2 separate regions of the Homo sapiens genome follow, and region 2 is linked to region 1. Evidence: fine-mapped expression QTL. Tissue or cell type: whole blood. Region 1 holds a variant in brackets; the other region holds the start of a gene. All regions are shown on one strand. Distances are between the middles of the regions.

Evidence for each region. PIP is the estimated chance that this variant, and not a neighbour inherited with it, causes the effect.
Region 2: it holds the start of SAMHD1, and the variant in region 1 is fine-mapped to the expression of SAMHD1 in whole blood (INTERVAL, PIP 0.97).

What each region holds. Positions count from the first base shown.
Region 1 is chr20:37,550,033-37,552,715 of GRCh38, reverse strand. No RefSeq gene overlaps it. Among named protein-coding and RNA genes, the nearest start is that of LINC01746, 20 kb to the left of the region's middle. The variant G/T (reference allele first, on the strand shown) is at 1,465.
Region 2 is chr20:36,950,595-36,953,277 of GRCh38, reverse strand. SAMHD1 (SAM and HD domain containing deoxynucleoside triphosphate triphosphohydrolase 1) reads left to right here and starts at 1,570. Exons shown (of 16, transcript NM_015474.4): 1 at 1,570-1,842. The coding sequence starts at 1,635. RefSeq lists a silencer at 1,856-2,075.

The DNA.
Region 1 (2,683 bases):
ATCCTCAATGAAATACTAGCAATCAAATCCACCAACACATTAAAAACATCACTCACCATGATCAAGTGGGTTTCATTCCAGAGATACAAGGATGAGTCAACATATGCAAATCGAAAGACATGACACATCACATTAACAGATTCAAGAACAAAAGCCATGTGATCATTTTAATAGATGCTGAAAAAGCATTTGATAAAATTCAGCATCCCTTTATAACAAAAACTCAGCAGTTTTTGTAGAAGGAACATACCTCAAAACAATAAAGGCTATGTATAAAAAACTCAAAGCTAACTTTATACTGAACAGGGAAAATGTGAAAGTATTTCCCCTAAGATCTGGAACAAGGCAGAGATTCTCACTTTAGGTCTCAGCCAGAGCAGTTAGGCAAGAGAAATAAATTAAGGGCATCCAAATTGGAAAGAAAGAAGTCAAATTTTCCTTGTTTGCAGACAACACAATCTTATATTTAGAAAAATGTAAAGATACCAGATATTTTTAGAACTGATAAGGAAATTCAGTAAAGTTGCAGGATACAAAATCAACATACGAGAATCAGTAGCATTTACATATGCCAACAACAAACAATCTGAAAAAAAATTAAGAAAGTGATTCTATTTACAATAGCCACAAAAAATACCTAGGAATAAATTTAACCAAAGAAGTAAAAGATTTTTACAATGAAAACTATAAAACACTGATGAAAGAAATTGAAGAGGAAGGGCTGGCTACAGTGCCTGTAATCCCAGCATTTTGGGAAGCCAAGGCAGGAGGATCACTGGAGCCCAGGAGATCAAGGTCAGCCTGGGCAACATAGGGAGATACCATCTCTACAAAAAATAAACACATAAATTAGCTGGGCATGGTGGCACATGCCTGCGGTCCCAGCTACTCATGAGGCTGAGGTAGGAGGATCGCTGGAGCCTGGGAGGTTGAAGCTGCAGTGAGCCATGATCATGCCACCACTGCACTTCAGCCTAAGCAACAGAGTGAGACCCTGTCTCAAAAAAAAAAAAAAAGAAAGAGAGAAGGAAAGAAAGAAAGAAAGAAAGAGAAAGAAAGAAAAAAATAGTTGAAGAGTACACACATACACAAAAAAAAGGAAAGATTATCACATGTTCATGGATTGGAAGAATTAATATTGTTAAAATATTCATACTACCAAAAGCAATCTACAGATTCAATGTAATCCCCATCAAAATTCCAATGACATTTTTCACAGATATAAGAGAAAACAATACTAAAATGTGTAAAGGGGCTAGGCATGGTGGCTTATGCCCATAATCCCAGCACTTTGGGAGACGAAGGTGGGTGGATCACCTGAGGTCAGGAGTTCAAGACCAGGCTGACCAACATGGAGAAACCCCATCTCTACTAAAAATACAAAATTAGCTGGGTGTGGTGTTGCATGCCTGTAATCCTAGCTACTCGGGAGGTTGAAGCAGGAGAATCGCTTGAACCCGGGAG[G/T]CGGAGGTTGCGGTGACCCAAGATCACACCATTGCCCTCCAGCCTGGGCAACAAGAGCGAAACTCCATCTTTAAAAAAAAAAAAAAAAAAGTATAAGGAACCACAAAAGACCCCAAATAACCAAAGAAATCCTGAGCAAAAAAACCAGTTGGTAGTATCACACTAGCTGACTTCAAAATATACTACAAAGTTAACCAAAACAGCGTGGTACTGGCATAAAAACAGACACTTAGACCAGTGGAACAGAATAGAGAACCCAGAAATAAATCCATGCCTTTACAGCCAACTCATTTTTGACAAAGGCACCAAAAGCATACGTTGGAGAAATATTAATAATAGTCTCTTCATTAAATAGTGCTGGGAACACTGAATATTCATATGCTGAAGAATGAAACTAGACAACTTTATATATTTTACCATATATAAAAATCAAATAGAAATAGAGTAAAGGCTTAAATAAAAGACCTGAAACTATGAAACTATTAGAAGAAAACATTGGCCCCGTCCGGGAGGTGGGGGGCAGCCCCCCCCCGGCCAGCCGCCCCGTCTGGGAAGTGAGGAGCCCCTCTGCCCGGCCGCCACCCCATCTGGGAGGTGCACCTAACAGCTCATTGAGAGCGGGCCATGATGACGATGGCGGTTTTGTCGAATAGAAAGGGGGGAAATGTGGGGAAAAGAAAGAGAGATCAGATTGTTACTGTGTCTGTGTAGAAAGAAGTAGACATAGGAGACTCCATTTTGTTCTGTACTAAGAAAAATTCTTCTGCCTTGGGATGCTGTTAATCTATAACCTTACCCCCAACCCCCTGCTCTCTGAAACATGTGCTGTGTCCTCTAAGGGTTAAATGGATTAAGGGCGGTGCAAGATGTGCTTTGTTAAACAGATGCTTGAAGGCACCATACTCGTTAAGAGTCATTACCACTCCCTAATCGCAAGTTCCCAGGGACACAAACACTGCGGAAGGCGGCAGGGCCCTCTGCCTAGGAAAACCAGAGACCTTTGTTCACATGTTTATCTGCTGACCTTCCCTCCACTATTGTCCTATGACCCTGCCAAATCCCCCTCTCTGAGAAACACCCAAGAATGATCAATAAATACTAAAAAAATTAAAAAAAAAAAAAAAAAGCATTGGGGAAATCCTTCAGGACATTGGTCTGGGCAAATATTTTTTAAGTAAGACTTCAAAAGCACTGGCAACAAAAGTAAAAGTAGACAAGT
Region 2 (2,683 bases), 600 kb after region 1:
CCCTTTAACAAGCAGTGGTTGGCAAGTTATCAAGACCATGGACTTTGGAACCAAGTTACATCTCTTGGGTTTGAATACAGGCTTCATCATTTCCTAGCTGTAAGACCTTGGGCAGCTGGGTACGGCTGTGTAATCCCAGCACTTTGGGAGGCTGAGGTGTGGGAATCACCTGAGGTCAGGAGTTCAAGACCAGCCTGGCCAACATGGTGAAATCCTGTCTCTACTAAAAATACAAAAATTAGCCAGGTGTGGTGGCAGGCGCCTGTAGTCCCAGCTACTTGGGAGTCTGAGGCATGAGAATCACTTGAACCTGGGAGGCAGAGGTTGCAGTGAGCTGAGATCACGCCACTGCACTCCAGCTTGGGAAACAGAGCAAGACTCCGTCTCAAAAAAAAAAAAGAAGACCTGCGGCAAATTACTTTTTCCTACATCCTAAGGTAATTGTGATAATTAAGTGAAGTAATATGTGTAGAGCCCTTAGAACTTTACAATATTTGTAAAACCCTTAGAAGTTATAAAAATTATTTAATATTTAAATAATTTAATGAATGTACTTAATTCATTTAGTATTATGTATAAATATAAAATTATTTTATATTTGTAAAGCCCTTAGAACCGTGCCTGGCACACAGTAAAGCTCTGTTTGCAAATAATATTTTGGCTCACCAGTAGACCACTAGTTCATACTGCTTGATGATAAGCTATTCCGCCTCATTCGTCCTTGACCCCCTAAACAGGTCTATGCCTTGGTTGCTGGGAAGGTGTGTTGGCTTTATTAACAGTAATAGTGATATGTCCTTTTACCAGGCAATTGCATGGACCAGTATTTATAGGGAAGTTTGAGCCCTGCCGCAGAGGGGTTAAGTGATGGGAAAATGCCTGCCATTTTCACATGCTGTTACAACCAGGCAGTAAAAGTCCTCAGAAGTTAAATTTTAAGTAATCAGACTGGCCACTTTCCTTCCTCTGGGAATGCAGTTGGGATGGAGGGCTCTGTCTCTAGTTGGAAAGAAGTCTGAAGTCCCCTCCTGTGTGGACACCAGACAACAGGTATCCCAGGGCCCTCTAGTTGACCAGCAATACTGTGGAATGAAGACACCCTCAAGTCACATTTGAAATCATTCCGGGTTCTTCCAGTTCAGCACCTTGACTGTTTTCCTCTTCACTGGGAAGGTGCTGGCAGCCTGACGGCCTTTTAGGCTTCTTTTAAGTTTGGGGCATCTGAAACCCGGCCAAGGTGCGGCGGGTAGTGTACTCATTCGAAGGAGAATACCCCCAATTCACTAGACGAGCCCCTAATTGGGGGTGCGGTGCCGGGCGCGCTCTTTCCTCCCCCTTTCCACCAGCACTGCCCTCAGTTCTGCTTCTAGCCACGCCCTTTCGCGTTCACGTCCAGCGCCCTGGCGGGATTGATTTGAGGACGACTGGACTGCCATTGCGCCTGCGCAGGGAGCCCAAGGCAAGAGCCGCTAGGCTGCCCTGCCCGAAGGGCTCAACTGTCAGTGAGCCTGCGCAGGAGGCCAATAGGCTGCCAATACTCCTTGGACTCCCCGCCAGGGCCCTGCTGTCAGTGCGCCTGCGCGCGGGTCCGGCGCCGAGGTTCTTGACTGCTGTGCCGGACGCCAGGTGTAGCCATGCAGCGAGCCGATTCCGAGCAGCCCTCCAAGCGTCCCCGTTGCGATGACAGCCCGAGAACCCCCTCAAACACCCCTTCCGCAGAGGCAGACTGGTCCCCGGGCCTGGAACTCCATCCCGACTACAAGACATGGGGTCCGGAGCAGGTGTGCTCCTTCCTCAGGCGCGGTGGCTTTGAAGAGCCGGTGCTGCTGAAGAACATCCGAGGTAGCGGCTCCGGAGGGGCTGAGGGGCGAAGGGCGGCGACCTGGGGCGCGGGCCAGGCGCCCTGAGGGAGGGGGCCCCACGAGAGGACCGAGGCCGAGGAGCGAGCCCTGCGGCGGGAGGCACCCGGGAGGGCGGACCTGCGCTGGGGGCGCCGAGGAAAGGAAGACCCGAGGCGGGGGAGGGAGCCCTGCGGCGGGGGTTCCCAGGAGGGCCTGCGGCATGGGGCTCCCGGGACTGACTCCCCGAGGCGGAGGAAGAAGACATGGGGTCGCCTGGGATAGGCGATTCGTAGGATGGGAGCAGGCTCCCGGGATTGAGGACCTGGGAGGGGCAGTCGTAGATTGGGATCTCACTCTCGTGGGTTTCTTCACTAACTTGCCACCCCGGCGCGGGACAAGCGAGACTCGGGTCCCTTTTTTTTAGTTAGAAGGAGATTTTTCCCCAGACCTTGGTGGGCGGCTTGCTGTCATCCAGGCTCGCGGGACCCCTCCGCGCTAACCGCAGCTCCTTGAACACTTGCCACATCAGAGGATGTTCTGGGGCTTTTAGGTTTCGGTTTCCTCCCTGAATTGAGGCTTTTCCTGAAGGGGAAGGAACTGGCTTGGTTAATCTCTGAATTCCCATCACCTTCCTTGGCATCCCAGCAGCGCCCGATAGGCGTGTGTTGACTGCACTTGCAGAACATGGTAAGGAACATGTTTTGCTCTTTAAAAGCAGGTTCCCCTCCAAAATCTGAACCTTGGGGTTGTTCAGTTGACCACTGAATCCCCAGCATGCCACAGTTTGGCCACATCCCCTGGAGAAGTGTTTAGGTTGAGTTTTAATCATATTTTACTGATTC